Linked DNA regions of Homo sapiens: regions 2 and 3 are each linked to region 1. Evidence: fine-mapped QTL for protein levels in blood plasma. A gene starts in region 1. Each other region holds a variant in brackets. All regions are shown on one strand. Distances are from middle to middle.

Region 1 (7,518 bases):
GGTGGAGGAAGCCGGTCATGCAGATATCTTGGAGGACAGTATTCCAGGCAGGGAGAAGGGCTGCCATGGGAGCATGGCTGGCACGCTGAAGGGACAGTGGGAGGCCCATGCTGCTGGAGCAAAGGATCGAAGGGAAAGTGGTGAAGGAAAGTCAGAGAAGTAGGTGGAGAGTTCGTGGAGCCTGGCAGGACTCTGGGAAACCATTCGAAGGTTTTAAGCAGAGAGATATGATCTGACTTGAGTTGGATCTCAGGATCACTCTGAGGGACAGTTGAGAATAACTAAAGAGAACAAGTTGCAGAAGTAGGTCCCAGCTCTACAAGAGACAACCAGCTCTGAAAATGTCTGGCTGGAGTTGGGGAGGGAATCCTATAAAGAGAGGGCAGGGTACCCCGCAGTGCCTTCAAAGCATCAGCCTTAGGGGATGAGTCAAGCCTGTCTTAGAGCAAACTTTTCACCATGAGGCCCGGGAAGTAAACCCTGCATTCAACGGAAGCAAGAAGCCTCAGAAACAAATGGGTGCCTCTAAATAAAGCATTCCTTTACATTTATAGAGGCCATTAATCCCATTCGAACCGGAAAGAAGGAAAACAAACCACGGCAGTCAGTTCTCCAAGGCCCTCGGCTCCAGCCAACTGGAAATACCTGTGAAAAGAGACCCTATCCCATTAACCCAGCTGCACACTGCCATGTGAAAGGGGCCCTATTATTTAAGTAGTTTGTAATTGTCCCACATTACTGATATCGTTAAAGCATCTCAGAATATTTCCATGGCCAGGCTGAATAAGAAAAAGTAGTTACCAGGCCACGCAGGCACAAAAGGCCTTTTGCCAAACTACTTAGATATTTTAATTCCCCGTTGCCTCAGTAGCTAAATAAGCATGGAGAACAAGCAGGCGGGGAATACTAATTAGAGCTAATTAGACCCTGCCCTCTTCTGCCTCAATCCCCTTTATAAAAAGCTCCCCCAACTCAAGGATGATGGAGTTAAAATGTAAATCCATAGGATAAACAGCAGTCTACAGACCAAACCCACTGTTTGTATTTCATTGTCCTGTCAGCTCTAAACCTGTGCCTGGTTACCTACAGAGAGCTGCAGACCCAGCCAAATTCCAACAACCCCATCACAGACCACAGGAAATGTGGTAGGGGGTTGGGGGTAGAGGAAGGGTGCTGCCAACATGAGTCCACTAAATAAAACAAAGGGCTTTCTTAGGATGTGCAGAGCATTCACTAGAAGAACATTCGATTGCTTTTTTAAAAAGAAATGAATGTGATAGCACACATAATTCCAGCGGTGTTGCAGGATCCTCTTTATAAGACGGTGTTCCTCTCTCTGTCTTAGCAAAGGCAGCGTGGAAAAGCCTCACCTCAGTGAGACCCCTGGTTTTGTGGGAAGACCACATCCTAGGATTCTGTCTGAAGGCTCTTGGCCATAAGATAATAAAAAGAGCAGGAGATAGCCCTTGGTGGGGACGGGAGGGGGTTGTCAGCCGGCCAGGGACTTGTTTGAAATGAGCCCCTGAAACCTAAGGTCAGTTTCCTGCTGGAAATCCGTACTGAGATGAAAGTGGGGTTAGAGCAACAGAGAGAGGCACTCAACCACTGGTCCAGGAACACCCAGGCAGGCATGGCCCTGAGGGTCATCTCTTTCTTTTCTCTGAGTAACTAGGTTTTTTTCTTTCAAATAATGTTCCTAGTGGCAAGACAGAAACACTCCCTGAATAAAGTACCTGTAGTGCTTCAAGAAAACAAAGAAGGGAAGGGAAGCAAAAAAAAAAAAGAAAAAAAAAAAGAATGTTGAAGTTAATTCAGCAACACTGAAAAACTAGGAGAAATGACACAGATGTGAGTCAACCTCTGCTAATCCTGAGAAGCTTCAGGGCCCTAAGAGGTAAGCAGCAAGTTCTGGAGGCCAGTGCCATGGCTTGCTCCACCACCACCACCACCAAAACCTGTAGTCAAAGAGATGGGCAGAGGCCAGCCGTGGTGGCTCACACCTGTAATCCTAGCATTTTGGGAGGCCGAGGCGGGCGGATCACCTGAGGTTGGGAGTTAGAGACCAGCCTGACCAACATGGTGAAACCCTGTCTCTACTAAAAATACAAAATTAGCCAGGCGTGGTGGTACATGCCTGTAATCCCAGTTACTCAGCAGGACAATCACTTGAACCTGAGAGGCAGAGGTTGTGGTGAGCTGAGATCATGCCACTGTACACCATCCTGGGCAACAAGAGTGAGACTCTGTCTCAAAAAAAAAGAAAAGAAAAGATAGGCAATGGGAAAACAGGACCCCAAAAGAGTTGCAAATGAACCACCATGCTCAGTGCTTTTCTCTTCCTTAAGCTGAGTCGGTAGGACAAAGGGCACTGGACCAAAAGCCATGGTCCCTGGTCCACCACTCCTGACCCAAGTAGAGGGGAAGGGCAAGTCACTTCCTTCCTGAGCCCATATGAGAAAATGGACATCACCGTGAAGATGTACGTGAACTCTGAAAAAGAGAAAGCAAGATGCAAGTGGAAAATAATGTATTTTTAGAAATTATTCGCAGCCAGGCGTGGTGGCTCATGCCTGTAATTGAAGCACTTTGGGAGGCCAAGGCAGTTAGATCACCTTAAGTGAGGAGTTCAAGACCAGCCCAGCCAACATGGTGAAACCCCATCTCTACTAAAAATACAAAAATTAGCCGGGCATGGTCGCAGCGCCTGTAATCATTGCTACTTGGGAGGCTAAGCCAGGAGAATTGCTTGAACCTGGGAGGTGGAGGTTGCAGTGAGCCGAGATGGCACCACTGCACTCCAGCCTGGGCTACAAGACTGAAACTCTGACTCAAAAAAAAAAAATTATTTGCAACTAGAAATTATTATTATAATTCTGTTTGTCAGAATTACAGAATGTCAAGCTGGAAAGGAACTTAAAAGCCATCTCCTTTGGCAGTTTCTGAACTTTTGGATTTCAAAGAAAACTAAGATTTAAAAACAAAACAAAAGAAACAAACAGAAAAAGAGAAGGGGAGCTTAACATAGGGTTGTCAGATTTTCTTATTTTGCCAAAATTAAAAACTACTAATATTATTAAGAAGTATTAAAAGAAAATGTTCCCACCAAAAAAAGAAAAAGTGCCTAATTTCAAACTAAAGGAAAGTCCTTGTGGAGCAGGGGAGCGTTGACAACAATACATTCCTGTGTGATGCAGGCTACATCTTCCTGCTCCTCGCTTTCCCTAGGGACCCATGAAAATATCCGTGATGGGCACTGGCTGCCGGATGGGTGTTTGGAATCCACTCATCTACTCTCCAAGCTCTGGAGTGATTATTTTCCCATTTAAAACAAAAACCAAAAACCTTGCTACAGTATTAAGTTTGAATTAGGGTCTGAACGAAGTTATTGTTTGCTCAGACCCCTCCTCCGCTCTTAAACCTAAACCTCCACTGCCTTCATGTAAATGAGACACCGTGGGGGAACAGTCCTCCCTTCGGGCAGCCAGGCAACCACTTGGCTCACAAGAGCAATCAAGTATCTCCGGCTTGAAAGTTAATAGAGCACTATTATTTCCTAAAAGAAAGGAGAAAATCCGCATCCCAAACAAGTGCATCCTTCCTCGAGGGCCTCCAAACTACCACGTCCAATCATCTCCCAACTCTGAAAAGTTAGAGCAGGTAACCGAGGGATCCTTGCAACGCTGCCAGCCCACCGCAGCGTCGGGCTAAGGCAATCTCCACAGCCCCTGTCCTCTGCTCCAGAATCCTCCACAGTTAGGGGAGTGTGAGGCTCCGAGCGTGTGCAAATCGCGGGATAAAGTCGGGCAGAAGGAATTTAATAGGGAAGTCCCAGGTGGGGCTGTGGTTTGGGACGCGGGTGCCCCCTCGGGTTTGCGGTGGCCTAGGCGAGGAGGAAGCAGGCGGGGGGCGGGGAGGGTGGGGGCTGCATCTTCAAAGGCAGGCGGCTAGCCTAGGCGCAGCGAACTCCAGGATTCGCTGTGGGCCCTGTGCACCCGCTGTTCCAGGAGGCGAGCCCTCCGGAGTGGAGGTGGCCCCGGGCTTTGGCTGGGGTTTCGAGACTCCCTTGCTTCTCCGGGAACAGGGCACCGACGGCATCCCCCCAGCAGCCCGCCCGCTCCCGGCCGGCCACAAGGACCGCTTTGTGCCCGCCAACGGAGAGCCCGGGCCCCAAGGCAGGGCTGGCGGCGGTCCTCCCCGTGCCCTGGGCGCGGGCCCTGGCGGGCTAGGTCAGCAGGCCGGCCAGCCTGTTTACACAGGAAGGGAAGCTCCTCCTCAGCCCGGGAGGGAACAGGAGACTCACGACAGCCCGGCGGGGCTGCGCGCGGGGAGCGCCCCGCGGGGCTGTCCCCCAGCGACTGGCCCACCAGGGAGTGCCCCGAAGGCGCCCTCCGCCCTCAGGCACCGCCTGCGCTCCCCGCCCCTCCGAGACGCCCGCCCGCGGCTGAGTGTGCGACAAAGTTTCTCTGGGCGCCGTGGGCGGCGCGGCTTACCTGCGAGCCGGGGCAGGAGCGCGCAGAGCCCCAGGAGGCAGGCGTACAGCGGCGCCGGGGCCCGCGGCATGGTGGGGCGCCTCCCTCAGCGGCGGCGCGGTCGCTGCACTCCGCGGGGGCCGGCGGCCGGGGCTGGGGCCGGAGCGCGGGGGCCGAGGGCCGGGGGCCGCAGCCGCATGCCCCGCGCGCAGCTCCGGCTCACGGCGCCCGCGCTGGCCCGCGCCCCGCCGCCACCATCCGTCCCGCAGCACTCACGGCCGAGTCCCGGGACCGCGGCTGCCCTGGCTGGCCGGCCGGGACTCCTAGTGTGTCGCCGCTCGGGACGGCCCCAGCGGGCTGCTCCGGGTAGGGGAGGGGCTGGCTCCGCTCGGCGGCCGCGACTTGGGCTCCGAGACGCGCCCAGCGCCGAGACTCCCCCGCGCGCCGGCACACTCTGCCCCTGGCCTCCGCCCCTTCCCTTCCTCCCTCCGGCCCGCCAGGCTCCACTTTCCTCCTCTCCTTTCTCCTCCCCTTCTCTCCCCTGCCAGGCCCTCGCCCGGCCGCCACACGGTCAGCTTACGGTGAGGCGGGGCGGGGCGAGCTCCGGGCCGGGCCAGCTCCGCCCTGTGCGGGGACCGGCCCGGGACGCGGAGGCCCTACGGGCCCAGGTGGAAGTCGCTTGCGACTCACTTGGGGCGTGGGGGGCTCGAAACCACTGAGTAGAGCCCGCTCCCGTTGCTTAGCCGCCCGTCGCCACGGGAAAGGGGCGGGGCACGCTGTATTAGGCGAGCCGAGATTACTTGGGCCAAAGGCGGTTGCTAGACTGCGAGAGGGAGAGCAGGTACGGGGGTCGTGCCGGTACCGCCTCATCCTCCCAAAGCCTCACTGCCGGCGGCCTGAGATGGGACGTAGACGCCCGCGCGTGGAACCGCAAAGCGACTTCTGGATGAGCAAGGGAGGGCGTGGTGGGGCGTGGAGGCACAAGTAAAACCTACATTTCTTTTTCTTTTCTTTTTTTTTTTTTTTTGAGACAGCGTCTTGCTCTCACTCAGGCTGGAGTGCACTGGCCCAGTCTTGGCTCACTGCAGCCTGGACCTCCTGGGCTCAAAGGTTCCTCCACCTTAGCCTCCTGAGTAACTGGGACTACAGGCGCGCGCCACCACACCCGGACAATTTTTACATGTTTTGTAGAGATGGGGGTCTCGCTGTGTTGCTCAGGTTAGTCTTGAACTCCTGGGCTCAAGCATTCCTCCTGTGTCTGCCTCCTAAAGTGCTGAGATTACAGGTGCGAGCCACCGTGCCCGGCCCACTTTTCACTTTTTAACTTTTGCACCTTTCAAGGATTTGAGACTGGCCAATATGCCGCTATATTTCGTTGTCCTTACTGATAATCTGTCAGTTTCCATGATCAAACTGATAGACTCAAAAACATATGCTCAGGCTTTCATCTTATCATTTACATATAAGCTGGATCTGAACTAGCCAATAAAGAGTGGGGTGGGGTCTTCCTCAGATGGTGCAGGAAAGGATGCCTTGGGCTTGGATTCGCTACAAGTGCGTTTAGAGTGGAGTGGTTGATAGGCAAGAGAAGAGGCGACATTCAGGTAGGGGAAAATAACGATAGAATACCTACCAAGTACAGAGAGCACACTGCCAGCCAGGCACTGTTCTAAGTCCTTTACCCATATTAACTCATTTCATCCTCCGACAACCCTACTGTTATCCAGTTGAGGAACCGAGGGACAGAGGGGTTAACTGCTGGAGGAAGTGACAGCTAGGATGCCTCGTTCAAAAGTGCAGCATGGCTTGGCTAAAACTGAAGCAGTAAGGGGGAAAGAACAAAGGGGTCTCACCTTTGCAGGCCAGGGACCTGGTGGAAGAATGGCTTGGAGGGCCCAGTGGAAAACTGTCCTAACTGCCCAGCTCAAGGAGTTTGGATGTTAACCTTTATTTCTTGGCCTCCTCCCAAACTCTAACAAGGTGGTGCCTCAATGCCTGAGGAAGTAAACTTCTTGAAGTACAATATAGTGTGCCTGGGGGCAAAGATGCAGCAGTCCATAGCAAGCTCCTTTATAGTATTTGTGAAAGGAAAATAAATCTCAGGGCCCCCAAATCACTAAGCCAGGAGAAAAATCAAGCTGGGAACCGTGTCAGGCAAACCTGCCTCCCATTTTATGCCTAATTAAGATAGCTAAGAAGCTACATACCTCCCTCACAATTTACCCACAGGAAATTCCTTTTGGACAAAGGACAGACAGAACTCAAAGTCATCCCTCTGAGGCTCACCTGAGACAAATGAATACCTGATTGCTCCCTCTGGCCTATTGTTTATGTAAAAATGCAGATTCACTGAGCCAGACTAAATTGTGTATTCAGTGGAAGGCTGATCAAGGACCCAAAAGAATGCAACCTTTTGTCTCTTATCTGCTTCTAACCTGGAAGCCCCCACTTCAAGTTGTCCTGCCTTACAAAACCAAACCAATGTACGTCTTACACATATTGATTGATGTCTCATGTCTCCCTAAAACGTATAAAAGCACACTGTAACCCCGACCACCTTGGGTACATATTGTCAGGACTTCCCGTCACTGGCACATCCTTAACCTTGGCAAAATAAACTTTCTAAATTGACTGAGACTGGTCTCAGATATTTGGGGTTAACATATTCTATAATATCCTCATGTTTGTTTTGATGTAAAACGCTTGTCCCTAAACATTTTACAGGAGCTGTCCTGGGTTTATCTTGGAGCTACCTGTCTCTTAGGTCAGTGGCCTTGGAGCTACTCTTATGCCAGTTTGAGAGGCAGTGATTATAAATAATGGGGCCAGCGCGTTGGCTCATGTCTGTAATTCCAGCACTTTGGGAGACCCAGTCGGGTGGATAGCTTGAGGCCAAAGTTCGAGATGAGCCTGGCTAAACATGGCGAAACCCTGTCTCTTAAAAATACAAAAATTAGCTGGGCATGGTGGTGGGTGCCTGTAATCCCAGCTACTCTGGAGGCTGAGGCCTGAGAATCGCTTGAATCCAGGAGGTAGAGGTTGCAGTGAG
Region 2 (7,518 bases), 27 kb before region 1:
TAACTGAGCATATATTGAGTTTTATGCATAAATACGGATTGTATGCAAACCTGCCGTTACTCAAATCACTTATTTTTTATTTTGGGTTCTTGTTGTTGTTGTTGTTTTTGTTTTTTAGAGTCTCATCTTCATCTAGACTGGAGCCTCAAACTCCTGGGTTCAAGGGATCCTTCCACCTCAGTCTCCCCCATAGCAACGGGGTCTCACTATGTTGCCCAGGCTGGTCTCAGATTTCTGACCTCAATCGATCCTCTCTCCTTGGCCTCCCAAACCACTGAGATTACAGGCATAAGCCACCACACCCGGCCTTCTCTAACTCTCTAACTCTTCTACAGGAACTGCTGTAAAAGCCAGTTGATAGTCAAACCAGACAACCATCTCTGCTCACACTCACACCTTAATTCTCATTTTAAAAACTGGAATTATTAAAGTGTGGACATCTTTGGATTTGTGTGATGCAACTCTTGTCTAAGTTAAGTCTATCCTGAAGAAGAGAGACTTGCCACCATAAAGGATACTTCTTGGAGAGAACACCACAGGCTTTGAGAGCTATTCTAGATGAGGAGTTCAGAAAATGTAAATTAAAACCTTCCTCCACAATGGCTCTGAAACTACAAACTCTTTTGGAGGTGTGAATTTTTTTCCTAATTTTCAAAGATTATTGAATGAAAATAGCACGATTATACATACATTATGATAAGTATATGAAAAATACAAAAAGGTGAATAATACAGAGGACATAGTAAAAATGAAAAATAATTTTATGTTAAAGTGGATTATTTTTCTAGAATTTCATGTGTTATTGCTATACTGTTACTATGATAAAAAAGAAAATACACTATTCTTATACAACACGATGTTCCAACATATTAAGGGTCTATAACAACTCCTATATCCCTTTCGGTCCAAACCCTGGACCCTGAGTCTGTCTTCACATAAGAGATTTCTCTTTCCCCAGAGGACATTACCAACCATCTGCCCACATAAGTGCTCAGCTGACTTTTTTCTACCCACTCACACAGCTCTGTAAGAGTTCCCTTCCTTTTCTCTCTCAATTCAGTATCTCACTAAACAAAAAGGCTGAGTGTTGCTTACAGTGAGAAGGTTTGCAAAAATCCTAACTTCAATTAATCTCAACACTGATTCCTGGGCAGGCAACCCAATAGTTTAAGCTTCTCTATCCAGCAGGGCCAACTTACACTCTTCTTTTGTTTCTTATTTTCAAGACAATTAAAATAGACAAAATAAAACATTTCTCAACTATATGATGACTTGGAGCTTTCTTTAAAAACTCTTGGTGCAGACCATACAATGATAACCACAGCAACAACAACGAGCTTTACTGAGTGCTTACCACATGCAGCACTGTGTTAATCCATTTCCAAGGCACTGAGCATCCCTGGTCAAACCTCCATCTGGTACCCTCGGCCACTGCTCTTTGAAAATAATAAAAATTTTAACTTTGAAAAGTTCACTGATACAAAAAGTCCATTTAAGCCTCTGAACATGCCCATGAGGAACAAAGGTGACAAAGACCCTAAGATGCTGAGAGATGGAGTAACTTGCCCAGGGCCTCCAAGCTAGGGACAGAGCCAGAGCTAGAACCCAAGAGAGCCAGCCAGATCCATGATCTTTCCACTGCTACAAGCTTCCCTGGAGTCTAAATAAACCATCTACAAATAGCTACTGCCAATGGTTTCCTAGACCATGGGATAGAAGAAAACAGCAAAAAATCAGTAAAATGTGAAAAAATCTGCCCCTTCCCAATAGCGTAATACTTTCCAATTTAGCCACATGCACATCTAACCCTTTGACATTGCAAGGCTTCTAATATGCAGAATATTCAATGATAAAAGTGGTGAACTAGAAACAGCCATGGGTTTGTGGTTACCAAGACCTGGGGCTGAATCGATTCACCACTTACTGAGAGACCTTGAGCAGGTTGTTTCCTTGTGTGTAAAATGAGAGCTACCTGGCCAGGCATGGTGGTTCACGCCTGTAACCCCAGCACTTTGGGAGGCCGAGGAAGGTAGATCACCTGAGGTCAGGAGTTCAAGGCCAGCCTGGCCAACATGGTGAAACCCCATCTCTACTAAAAACACACACACAAAAAAATTAGCTGGGCGTGGTGGTACACATCCAGCTATTAGGGAGGCTGAGGCAGGAGAATCTCTTGAACCCGGGAGGTGAAGGTTGCAATGAGCCAAGACTGTGCCATTGCACTCCAGCCTGGGTGACAGAGCGATACCCCATCTCAAAAAAAAAAAAAAAAAAGATAGCTACCTTAAAGTTAGGTCAAGTGTTTAGCACATAGTAGGTGTGCAAAACTGTTTCTTTATATTACATTATAAGTAATTATATTACCGTTTCCTTATATTAAGCAACTCTAAGGCTTGCAGGGCCCCATGGTCACAAAACAAAATATCTCCACTCTAAAAGTTTGTCCTTGCAGAATGCTACAGACTCAAATGGAATTTGCTGACAGGAAAAAACACTTTTTCCTAAAAGTGGCGTGTTTCCTGAGCAACTTGCATTCACTAAGGAGTAAATCTACCAGCATCCTCCTAGAATAAACCACAGCATTATTCACAAGAGCCAAAAGTTGAAGACAACCTAAATGTTCACTGACAAATGAATAAACAAAATGTGATACACCCATACAATGAAATATTACTCAGCCAAAAAAGGAATGAAGTGCTGACACATGCCAAAATATGTGTGAAACTTGAAAACATTACACTTAGTGAAACAAGTCAAACTTCAAAGGACAAATATTGGATGATTCCACTTATGGTAGGTATCTGGACTAGTCAAGTTCAGAGTCGGAAAGTAGAGTAGGCAGCCACTACACCCTGAATGACTGTAATTTCTGCCATCAGTTGCTCCCTGATTTAAACAAAATTTAAAAACAAAAATAAATGAAAAATAAAAAATAAAGTAGAATGCTGGTTACCAGGAACCAAGGGAAAGAGAGAATGAGGAGTTAATGTTTAATGGGTATAGATTTTCTGTTTAGGACGACGAAAATGTTCCGGAAATAGATACTGCTGATGTTTATACAATATTGTGAATTTAATGCTGCTGAACTGTACACTTGAAAACGCTTAAATGGTAAATGTTATGTATATTTCACCACAATTGTTTAAAAATAGCAAAGATCTTCCTCTGTCCACAGGAGCCTGTCCACAGACACATCAATAAGAATATACTCTGCTTCCTGAGGTCTGAGCCTTGCCTCCCCATCACCATCTCGTGGCTCTGATCTCAGCCTGGCCTGACTCATTGTCCCATTATTAACAAGTCCCACCTCCCCCATGGGCCTTCCTGATCCCAGAGCATCCAGCCCTTTCTGTGGGCAACTCACCGGGCCGGAGGTTCACGGCAATCTCCTGTGGTGTCATCTGAATGACGTCCCAGCCTGCAGAGCCCGAACCCTTGCTGCTGAGGGGCAGGCTCCTCAGGACATGGAAGCTGCTGGCTGGGCTCT[C/G]TATCTCACCTCCACAGCCATTTTTGACAAGGTTTGCCCTCAGATCACACCGAGAGGTGATGGACCGTGGGCTTCCGAAGTCCTAGGCAGGGAAAAAGAGGAAGAGAGCAGGAGGTGGTCAGGGTGTCTCCCGAAAACATCGCATGTCGTGGCTGCGTCTCCATCTGGTTGACCTTAAATTCTCTACTTTCCATTTTCATTGTCTGAAAATGGAGGAAATGGTAATCCCTATCCCAGATGCTTCACCAAGTATTGTAAGGATTAACTGAGCTGCTGGACATGACAGCATTTTGTAAACTGTAAACACATAATAAAAATGTTCGGTTTTGTTGTTATTTTGATGGTTAAAATGCTCCTAACTGCCTACATGATTAGCAAGAGAAACAGAAATGATCAGAAGTTGTATAGCTAAAATTTTTTAAAAGTTGTTATATATTGCTGGGCATGGTGGCTCATGCCTGTAATCCCAGCTATTTGGGAGACTGAGGTGGGAGGATCGCTTGAGATCAAGAGTTTGAGACCAGCCTGGGCAACATAATGAGACCTCCTCTCTAAAAATAAATAAATAAGTAGATGAAATAATATATAGTTAAATAAATAAGATGACATATAAGTAGCTGAAAAGTCTTCCCTTGGGCATTCAAGAGTTAACCTTTAAGTTGTTCACTTATCATCTTTCACAGGCATTGGATGCTGGATAATCATTCAGGAGAACAATGTGGCAGTACAGGTCATATCCACTGACCCAGTGCTCTACTCCAAGAAACTTATTACAAGAAAATCATCTAAAGAGAAAGGAGAAACTCTATGTGATATATACGGCAGTATTACTTATAATATAATCTTTAAAACTTGCAAACCTAAATCCTTAAACCATAAGAATAACATAGCATATCACTTCAATAGATGACAGCCATTACAAATAATTATGGGAATTAAGAAGAAATTTAAAATATTTACACTAAGGAGGAAAAAAAAACCCAAAATATAGAATTGTATTTATTAGGATTTGAAAGAACAATTTTAAATGAGGTGTTATAGTAAAGTGACAAAAACATTTTTGTTTTTATCTTTGTTGTTTGTATGATAACGACACATTGATAAGAAAAATCTTTCTTTGGGTTTGGGAGAAAGCTGGACATCAGAACAACTCAACCTCATTTGGGACACCAGAAGGTTAAGGTATTAACTTTAAAATGAAACAATATACTTTATTATAAATCATGAAGCCTCCCTGGTCATTTCCGGCAAAGGGGTTTCACCTTTTCCCTGGTGAATGTGAAAAACAAGATTCCCCCCACTCTGGCAGGCTGGAAGCCAATGCTGTCCTATGAGTCTTTCTGGAGGAGTTAGGACACTGGTCCCTTCCTCTTCCCTCTGGAACACTTTGCCAGAAGCCTCATGTGAGTCAGCATCCCTTGACCACTTTGTTAGAAGCCAGACTGCTGGCAGAGGCACAAAAATCAGAGGAATGCACCCTCCCTCAAGGTCTCAGATGTCCTGGAACTACCCAATGCCCTTTAGAATCCTTATAAAATTCAAGATCAAGAAGTCAGCCTGGTGTGGTGGCTCACACCTGTAATCCCAGCACTTTGAGAGACTTGAGGCAGGAGGATCATTTGGGCTGGGAGTTCAACGCTGCAGTGAACTGCGATTGTGCCACTGCACTCCTGCCTGGGCGACAGAGCAAGAGCCTGTCTCAGAAAAACAAAAAACAAACACAAAAAAGAACAAGAAGTCAAGAAGACGCTGCAGTGTTTTTAAATAAGTAAAGCCAGATGTATTGTCCTAAGCCTACGGTATGTTTGTTTATATTCTGGGTTGTTTTTTTTTAATAACGATTTTTTATTTGTGCATTAAATCCCCGAGGATCTTGCCTGTCAACAACCTCCAGGACTACATCAAAGGTATAAGTGGCTCCATAAACACTTGTTGTGCAACAAGGTTAGAAAAATGAGTTTTCTAGCCAGCCATGGTGGCTCATGCCAGCATTTTAGGAGGCTGAGGCGGGAGGATCGCTCGAGCCCAGGAGCTCCGGGCTGCAGTGGGCTATGATCCATGCCACTGCACTCCAGCCTGAGCGACAGTGAGACTTTGTTAAAAAAACAAAACAAAACATATATATATATATACACACACACACACACACACACACACACACACAGAGAGATACACATATATATATTATTCTGGCCTTAGATTTTTTTTTTTTTTTTTAGACACAGTCTTGCTCTGTCACCAGACTGGAGTACAGTGGCGCAATCTCAGCTCACTGCAACCTCCGACTCCCTGGTTCAAGCAATTCTCCTGCCTCAGCCTCCCGAGTAGCTGGGATTACAGCCACGCACCACCATGCCCAGCTAATTTTTGTATTTTTAGTAGAGACGGGCTTTCACCATGTTGGCCAGGATGGCCTCGATCTCCTGACCTTATGATCTGCCCGCCTCGGCCTCCCAAAATGCTGGAATTACAGGCGTGAGCCAGTGCACCCGGCCTCTGGCCTTAGATTTAAAAGCAGAACTTTCTAAATGGGGTTCCAGGTGGTCAAGCTTGGCTCTGATATAGCAGTTCTAGTGAAGCAGTGAGAAGAAAAACACAGGGTTCTGGAAAAGGAGGGGTAACGACCTGAGGGCCCTGCCAGTTTGGGTCTGCTGTCTTGAGCTGTCTGAAGTAGATGTCTAATTAGCTTTCCAGAGCTTGAAGAGCTCAGGGGCTTGCCTGCCCAGTGCTTACTCTGCTAGAGAATTTCTGAATTTCTCACTGGCGAACTGAGCCTTGCTATCCAGCCCCTCTGCTTCTGAGGAACTGACTATACTTGGCCCAGTTCTGTTTGTCAAGGTGCACCTGTTTTGATCAGTCCAGTGCACAGCCCCACCACCAGGGTGGCAACGGAAGCATGGTCAGTTTTTTCAGAGTAATGAGAACCCCTGACACCTCTCTCACTGGTCTGGACCAGCTTACACTCTGGAATAGACTAGGGCACAGAGCCAACCTGCTTCACCTAAGCAGGAGGCAGGTGCACAATTCCTTCAGTTTGGTCAATGAGATGATCCCCCCCACTGCTGGGATACTTGCACTGGCAGTGAACTTCATCTGAGCTTCCCAACATCCTGCTCAAAGGGATTTTTGATGGATACTACCCATCATTGCAGAAGAACTTGTACAGGGCCAAATGTATCTGCTGGGACCATCAGGAGACTTAAAGTCCAAATCATATTTCCCAGACCTGAAGAACTGTGAGGCGGACAGGTCAGTGCCTATTACAACCCTAGTAGTGTCGCTGGCTTTCCCAAGTGCATGCTGTAGCAGCTCTGGGGCTTCTTTATTCTCTAGGATGTTAGGAGCAAAGCCCTCTTCATGCCCTTCACTGGTAGCAGTTTTCCCATGTTTCTCCTTAAAAACATTCTTCAGCTGAGGTTGTGATAAACCTCAGCTCCAGTGCATACGAGGCTTCCCTAAAGTTAGCTGCACCAACAACAAGAATCATGGGCTCCTGCACTGTCACCTGGTTGCCAGTGTGGAAACCACCATTAATCACATTAAAGCTGCAACTTGCAGGGTTGCACTGACTTCGGAAGCACAGACCAAGTCAGCAACATGATGGTACAAAGGGAGTCCTATTCTCAGCAACTCCAGCTTTATAGACAGCAAAGGACACACCATATGCCACGCGGACCAAAGTTAGATTTCTTCTCAGTGCCAGGCATCTCTATCATCAGTGTCAAAGTTCGCTTTCTTGCTATCTAGGTCAGGCCATATGGTTTTGTTGATGTGCTCAACAACTTTGAGGCATCTTTACCTATATATCGAGTCCTGTCATTATTTTCCCAGAGCTCTAGGGACTCAGAGCCACTAGCTGAGGCACCACGGGGCAAGGCAGGTCTGAAGAAGCTTTTGAGGGTAAGGCAGCTACCTTAACAGGGAAATTCCCCTAAGAGGTAAAGATCTCTTTTGGCACGGAGTCCAAACAATTGCTGTGACTAATTTCTTTTGATTTATTTTTGACCCGATAAGGAAAGAGTAAGCCATAA
Region 3 (7,518 bases), 89 kb before region 1:
CATACCCCATCTCCCACTTGCCCTGTCTCCCAGGCTCTGTACTCAGAGAAATGCCCAGTCTCAGCAAGACAGAGGAGGCATCTAACATCCACTGGGTCCTGTTCCCTACCGAGTACCAGGCCAGGGCCTTCATCTCTGTCTTCTCCTTCAATTCTCAAAATAATGCAGAAACAAATGGTGTTGGCCCATCTTAGGAGACAGGAAAAGCCAAAGTCCAAGACAACCAAGGTCACAGCCTGATGAACTGTGGAGATGAAACGTGCACACAGCATCTGACTCAAACGCCCTTGCTCCCAGGCTGCATGGACACACGCAGGCTTCTAGGGTGAAGACATACCAGAGGGTTATTTCAGGATCCTGAAGGGGAAGGAGGGATGGTTCTGTCACGTTTGCTAATATCTCTTTAAAAGAAAAACTGCTAAAAAGCCTGCCAGGCTGCTTAGAGCTTTTATTATGGCTACTAAGAGGAATGGAAACTCCATTCCACCACCCTGGAATTTTTTAGGCAAAGCCTGGGGACTGTCTGGGGGAAGGCGGGGCCCTCCTGCACATGGGGAACCAGGTGTGGCCCCCCCAGAGGGGTGTGGCACTGACTCATAGAGGAGCCAGCATTGGGTGTGTTTTCCTTTTGTGCCAGGCAAAATACTGGGTGCTTCACACACATCTCTTATTCCTCATAACAACTCTATGCCCAAGTCACACTAGCAGATATGGTATGATGGGACTTAGGCCCAGGCCTCCTGCTATGGAGCCCAAACTTTTTCTACTAACCAGACAGAACCATCTAGCTAACACCAACCTATCATCACTCTGCTGAGGAAAGCGTTGATCCCTGTTGCATGCTTGGCATGTTGAATCCTGATTTTTCCACCTACTTTACTCTGCAATGACACTGCTAAGTCCTGCACTCTCCAGGGCAACTCCAGTTTTAGACATGCTGGTCCCACGACGCCCATGGGTGTACTCACGCTTGTGTCACGGCAAGGTCCGCTCCAGGAAGCTTCCCTTGTTAACCCACGTCTGTGCAACCCTGTGTGGCAGTACAATTCCTCCTCCCATAGGACGGAGTATCTGCACGTTCCTGGTTTGCTTCAGATGCACCTTGTGCTTTCTTTCCCAGCTGATCCCTTAGTTCCTTTCAAATCCACCCATCCCAATTGGAAGACCATTCTTAAGGAGGGAGCCCTGGAAACCACAGAATACATGATGTGTAGAAGAAACCACAGCCCTGCCTAAAACTGTTTTACTTACTACCTTTACAGGTGGCATGGTGTTAGATAAACTTTGAGATACAATTTTGAAGCATTTAATCAGAACGCAATACCAGAGTGGGAACTGCCAACTTGTCATTTAACTGGAATCAGTGTAAACTCCTGTGTTTAGATTCAGAAAATTAAGGGCTCCAACACAACACACTAAAAAAGTACCTCTCCTTCTGAACCACAGTTCTAAAAAATAAAATAAATTAAAAGCCTCAAACTTTTGGTAGTGAAGTTAAAAACCAGCTCAAGAGTATACTGTGACTGTTTAACAGAACGAAAAGGTGGGCTGGGCGCAGTGGCTCACACCTGTAATCCCAGCACATTGGGAGGCTGAGGTGGGTGGATCACCTGAGGTCAGGACTTCGAGACCAGCCTGGCCAACATGGGGAAACCCCATATCTATTTAAAAAAAAAAAAATTTGCCAGGCGTGGTGGTGGGTGCTTGTAATCCCAGCCAGTCAGGAGGCTGAGACAGGAGAATCACTTGAACCCAGGAGGCACAGGTTGCAGTGAGCTGAGATTGTGCCACTGCACTCCAGCCTAGGCAACAGAGCGAGACTTCATCTCAAAAAAAAAAAGAAACAAGAAAGAAAGAGAGAGAGAGAGGAAGGGAGAAGGGAGGAGAAGGAGGAGGAGAAGGAGAAGAAGAAGAAGAAAATAAAAAAAGGTGAATGTATTGTCAGGGTGCATCCATGTAAGCAGAATGTCCAAATCACAGGAAACGCATGCTTCACTGAACCCTGGACCAAGCCCTCATCATCCAGCATGACAAGTAACGCACTTGATTATGTGAAGCATGCTTCACAAATGATAGCACCCTCGGACAAGGAAGAGACTTGGGGTGTCTAGCCTAGATCAGAAGAGAGAACAGAGAAACATAAAGCAGCTTTTAGATGTTTGACAGGTTGTCACGTGGAAGGGGGACTCTAGAATGTTAACCATTGGGAGGAAGTTATTGAGAAACAAGTTTCTCTTCAGTATAAAGAGGAATTCTGGGCCGGGCACAGTGGCTCACGTCTATAATCCCAGTACTTTGGGAGGCTGTGGATGGATCACTTGAGATCACGAGTTCAAGACCAGCCTGGCCAACATGGTGAAACCCCGTCTCTACTAAAAATACAAAAATTAGCCGAGTGTGGTGGCGGGCGCCTATAATCCCAGCTACTCGGGAGTCTGAGGCAGGAGAATTGCTTGAACCTGGGAGGCAGAGGTTGCAGTGAGTCGAGATCCTGCCATTGCACTCCAGCCTGGGCAACAGAGTGAGACTCCATCTCAGAAAAAAAAAAAAGAGGAATTCTGGCAGGAAAAATAAGAGCCCCCAGAGATGTCCACATCCTAATCCCTGGAACCTGTGACTGTGTGGCCTTACGTGGTGAAAGGGACTGTGCAGATGTGAGTAAGCTGAGGACCTGGGGATGGGGAGACTTTCCAGGGTTCGACTGAGGGTCCCTTGTAACCACAAGGGTCTGTAGGAGAGGGAGAAGGATTTGACAACAGAAGCAGAGGTCAGAGTCAGAGAGATCTGAGGATGTTACTCTGCTGGTTTTGAAAATGGAAGAAGGAGCTGCAAGCCAAAGAATACAGGTGGCCTCTAGGAACTGGAAAAGGCCGGGACACAGATTCTCCCCTGGAGCTTCTAGGAGGTATGCAGCCCTGCTGGCACCTTGATTCTAGCCAAATAAGATCCATTTCAGACTTCTGGCCTCCAGAACTGTAATGGATTAAATGTGTATTATTTTAAGCCAACAGGTTTGTGGTGAGTTATGGGAGCAGCAATAAGATATGAGTTCATTGGCTAAGGGACAGATGGCCACTGCCAGCCCCAGTGAGTTCCCCGTCCCAGGAGGCAATCAAGAAGAGGCTGAACATCTCTACCTGTCAGGAATGCTGTGCAGGCCAGTCCTGCATGAATTGGGAAGTAAGGTGGATGACCCACGCAGGCCCCTCGAATTCTGAGAGTCCACAATTTATGGCAATACCTTCTGCTTTCGTATTCTGCACACAGATCCCCACCTCCTGCCTACGGGTAGCAAGGCTTGCCCACTGTCTTCTCCAAGGAGAGCCATGGTAGTGACACTTTCTACCACCACTGAGTAAAAGGCAGGCTTTGGGAGGGTGTCCTAACGGCATCTTGGCCTGGCTCAGAGCTAAAGTGCTTGCTGGGGACACTTACCTGAGCAGAGGACTCCCTTGTTCCTGGCACAGGAGAAGTTGTCGCACTCACAGAAAGGCCCATAGATCTTGCCAAACTCGCTCTCGAAGCAGGAGCACTGGTTGCAGCTGCAGTCCCCACGCCCGCTGCACAGTGGCTTGCCCTCTGCCTCCCGGCACAGGTTCTGGTACACGCTCTGGTTCTCCCCATCCTGGCACTCGCACCTGGTGCCCAGGTAGC[C/T]GGGGCTGCACTCACACAGGCCGCAGACATAGGTCCCGCTCCCGTTGCACCTGGCGCTGTTGGGTTCCAGCCCCACGCTGCAGCCGCACGTGCAGTTGTAGGTGACCCCCACCTCCAGGCTGTCCCGGAATCCCACCGGCCGCAGGGCAAACACATGCTCCGTGTGTCTGCTGGGACAGCTTCGGGCCTCCAATGATACTTCAAAAGATGCCTGGGCAGAAGGAAGAGAAGGGATATCATGGCTGCGGCAAGCCAGGGTCTCCCATTCACCCAGGGGCAGGGCCCTTGATGAAGAGCAGCTGCGAACTCCAGCCCTCTCCACGCACTCAGGTAGAACCACCAAGATGGCCGGAGTAGGAAGAGACCTCAGAACCAGCAAGCTCCCATGCTTCATGGAGAAGAGAATGCACAGGTGAGCTCACATTTGACAGGTGAATTCTTTAACATTCATTATCTCTTTGCATCCCCATGACCCTGAGGAAATGGGCCCCTGCGGAAAGCTATAGGGCTTCCTTGAGTTCACACAGTTCTTATTCTCCCTTTCTTTTCTCTTCTGTCCTATCCTCTTCCCAGCCCCGCTGCAGATGCCTCTTCTCTGCTCACTTAAAAAGTCATTTGGTGGAAAAACATTTCCTGGGCGCTGCCTCTGTGCCAGGCACAATGGCACTCTCACAGGGTGCCGGGTGAAGGGCACCCACCTGGCCCGCCATAGAGAGGGCTCTGTGCCTGCTGGCAAAGGGCTCAGCTGACTCCAGAGCTTGCTCTCCAGACACCCCCGAGTCCCCCGTGCCCCAATTCCTCCTCTGTGAGTGCTTGTCATAGCTGCATCTTTCACAATCCCCCCATGCCCCTGAGGTCTTAAAGAAGAGTCTCCAACTGATGAAATGCACCATGCACATGGACAGACCTTTTCTTTTTAAACAGAATATGTAAGGAAGTGTTTCTCACTCAGGAGCTTCTCACAGATTGCCTTGAAAACAGGCTCAAGGTGGGCCTGGATGGGTGGCAGATGGTGCGGGAGGGATGCCTGTCAGCTGCCCACAGGGCTGGGATGGAAGGAAAGCAAGAATGAGGCTTGGTCTGATTCAGGAACTAGAGCCTGACTCCCCCACCCTCTCCTCCTCACCCCCCTGAGGAGAGCCATGTGGGGTCTGAATCACCCATCAGGGCCCTGAGAGCAAGTCACTGTGGATTCTATGAAAACGCACAGACAGGTGGCCAGTGTGCCCTGATGAAATGCCGTTGTAAAGTTTTACTCAGGGGTGGGTTCTCCCTTACTCCCTGAACAGACAGAGGCCCGGCCCACCCCACAAACAGACTCACTGGATCTGGGTCCAAATGTCTTTATTTTTCAAAAGGCTCCTCAGATCATTCTGAAGCTCAGAATGGGTTAAAAACCACTTTCAGCTATTACTATTCTTAATTCTATTCTTTCGGCTAGAATAAAGCTTTTTTTTTTTTTTTTGAGGTGGAGTCTCGCTCTGTTGCCAGGCTGGAGTGCGGTGGCATGCACTCAGCTCACTGCAATCTCCACCTCCCGGGTTCAAGCCATTCTCCTGCCTCAGCCTCCAGAGTAGCTGGGATTACAGGTGCGCGCCACCACACGCAGCTAATTTTTGTATTTTTAGTAGAGATGGGGTTTCACCATGTTGGCCAGGATGGTCTCCATCTCCTGACCTCGTGATCTGCCCACTTCGGCCTCCCAAAGTGCTGGGATTACAGGTGTGAGCTACTGCGCCCAGTCATTAAAGCTAATTTTTAAAATGTCATCATTCACTTGATTTACTGGACAATCTTCAGGTAACAATGTTTTTGTTGTTGTTGTTGTTGTTTGAGACAGAGTCTCTCTGTCACCCAGGCTGGAGTGCAGTGGCACCATCTCGGCTCACTGCAGCCTCTGCCTCCCAGGTGCAAGCGATTTTCCCATCTCAGCCTCTCAAATAGCTGGGATTACAGGTGCCTGTCACCATGCCTGGCTAATTTTTGTAGTTTTGGTAGAGACGGAGATGGGGTTTCACTGTGTTGGCCAGGCTGGTCTCAAACTGCTGACCTGAAGTGATCCACCCGCCTTGGCTTCCCAAAATGTTGGGATTACAGGCGTGAGCCACTGCGCCCGGCCCACGATGTTCATTTTTTGAGAACATTATAAATATCTGTTTCTAAACATACAGATCCCTATTACTTTGAGATTTTTACTGGTTCTAAAAGGCCTCCCCTCAGATGCTGTGACATCTAGGGACACGGGGAGAGGGGAGAGGGTATGGGACTGAGCAGGAGGATAGATCCTGCTCTATAAGTCCTGCAGAAAGTCCTGCGTGGCAGCAAACTGCTGTTTCAAAGGACTTGACAACAGACACCCAGGACTCAGCATTAGCCAAGAGGCTCAACAGGAGAGGCTTCTGGATAGGTGAGCTGAGGATAGCTAGGGGAGCAGGATCAGAAGACACTCGGGGGACCAGGCCAGCTGCAGACAGCTTGGGCTAGCTCCACCTTACCTTCCATCTCTGTGGGGTAGGAAGAGTAGGAAGAGACAAAGGGGAGAGATTGACAAAAACAACTCCAAGGCTAAGTTCCAAGGTCTCGAGGTACAGGGAGTCTCTCAAGGTGAGTAAAGATTCAATCCACTTGGACACTGAAATTGGTTAAAGGATAACACGAATAGGATGGGCGTAGTGGCTCACACCTGTAATTCCAGCCCTTTGGGAGGCTGAGGTGGGCAGACTGGGAGGATCACTTGAGGCCAGGAGTTCGAGACCAACCTGGACAACATGGCAAAACCCCATCTCTACCAAAAGTACAAAAAATTAGCCGGGCATTTTGGCACATGCCAGTGGTCCCAGCTACTCAGAAGGCTGAGGTGGGAGGATGGCTTGAGCCCGGGAGGGGGAGGTTGCAGTGAGCCGTGATCGTGTCACTGCACTCCAGCCTGGACGACAGAGTGAGATCTTGTCTCAAAAAGAAAAAAAAAGCAAAACAAAACACTAATAATTATTAGTTGCCAAGTGCCTACTATGTACCAGGCACTGTGCTGGACTTTTCCACAAGCATCTCTTTTAAATGCCCTAGAAGGAAGTGTCCTCATTTTACCAGAGAGAAAACAGGGTTGGCGGGGTTGGTGGATTTAGTCATGCTCACACAGCTGATGAGTGGGGCCAGGCCTAGAGCAGGGCCCGCGCTCTCCTTAGCATATCCACCTCCTAGACGGGGGAATGAGGTCTACCTCATCGGGGTGCGCAGGGAGAGCCAGCCTGGCTTACTAAAGGGACCCCTTGATGGTGATCCCCAAAGTGGTGGCCAGAGGCATCTCCACATCTTTCTGCCGTGGGCTGGGAACGATTTGAGCCTGCAGATAGGATAAGAGTGGGGACTATGCCTGCCCGAAGCCACCCGTGGGGCCATCAAGAATGCAGAGGTGAATGGAGCTTTGAGGGGCAGATGCCATCCCTCCCTTCTGAGGCCCAGAGAGAAACTTGCTTGCATCTCCTATTACTATTTGCTTGAAGCTCCCACAACAGTGACATGCTTGAAGCTACCTGTAGCTTGCTTCAAGTTACAGCTGAAACCCTGTACTTCTAGGGCTACAACTTGCTGGACTTGTGCTCCACAGAGGCATCTGCGGGTCAGAAACTGAATAAACTACAGAGGAATGACCTGGACCAAGAGCCAAAGGCATTTAATTATTGAAAGACTGTGGGGAGTACACACCTGTGAGTATAACCTTGTCTCATGGAAACTTGCCTGCCTTGGGGTTAAAGCAATGAAAGTGAGAGTTAAGTCTCCAGAATCTTGCTGATGTGTCTGGGAGAAAGTGGGAGGTTAGGGCACCCCTAAAGTTCTGGCACTCAATCACCAGCATGTAGAAAC

Direction of the effects. Alleles are on the strand shown, and positions count from the first base shown. The strength of an association depends on the size of the effect and on how common the allele is.
With allele G in place of C in region 2, the plasma level of the protein whose gene starts at base 4,925 in region 1 is lower (weak association).
For the plasma level of the protein whose gene starts at base 4,925 in region 1, allele C in region 3 goes with a higher level than allele T (weak association).

Evidence for each region. A credible set is the group of variants that fine-mapping cannot tell apart. PIP is the chance, under the fine-mapping model, that this variant and not a neighbour inherited with it causes the effect. Protein levels are from antibody-based Olink assays in UK Biobank. Linkage for the fine-mapping came from a reference panel and not from the study's own genotypes, which makes the PIPs less certain.
Region 2: its variant is the best candidate, but not a certain one, in a credible set for the plasma level of the ITGB5 protein (UK Biobank, PIP 0.77). The variant lies in the coding sequence of ITGB5. If it changes the protein, the assay may bind it differently, which can mimic a change of level.
Region 3: its variant is the best candidate, but not a certain one, in a credible set for the plasma level of the ITGB5 protein (UK Biobank, PIP 0.89). The variant lies in the coding sequence of ITGB5. If it changes the protein, the assay may bind it differently, which can mimic a change of level.

The regions. Positions count from the first base shown.
Region 1 is chr3:124,882,441-124,889,958 of GRCh38, forward strand. It overlaps ITGB5 (integrin subunit beta 5), which reads right to left and starts at 4,925. Exons shown (of 15, transcript NM_002213.5): 1 at 4,491-4,925. The coding sequence starts at 4,560. RefSeq lists silencers at 962-1,256, 4,314-4,403, 4,864-5,303 and enhancers at 2,765-3,649, 5,418-6,300, 6,301-7,185.
Region 2 is chr3:124,855,878-124,863,395 of GRCh38, forward strand. ITGB5 (integrin subunit beta 5) reads right to left here. Exons shown (of 15, transcript NM_002213.5): 3 at 3,365-3,569. It also overlaps the pseudogene ENO1P3. Among named protein-coding and RNA genes, the nearest start is that of ITGB5, 28 kb to the right of the region's middle. RefSeq lists an enhancer at 2,931-3,468. The variant C/G (reference allele first, on the strand shown) is at 3,488.
Region 3 is chr3:124,792,953-124,800,470 of GRCh38, forward strand. ITGB5 (integrin subunit beta 5) reads right to left here. Exons shown (of 15, transcript NM_002213.5): 10 at 3,436-3,865. It overlaps LOC124909422 (a long non-coding RNA gene), which reads right to left and starts at 3,423. Exons shown (of 2, transcript XR_007096043.1): 1 at 969-3,423; 2 at 1-320. The variant C/T (reference allele first, on the strand shown) is at 3,655.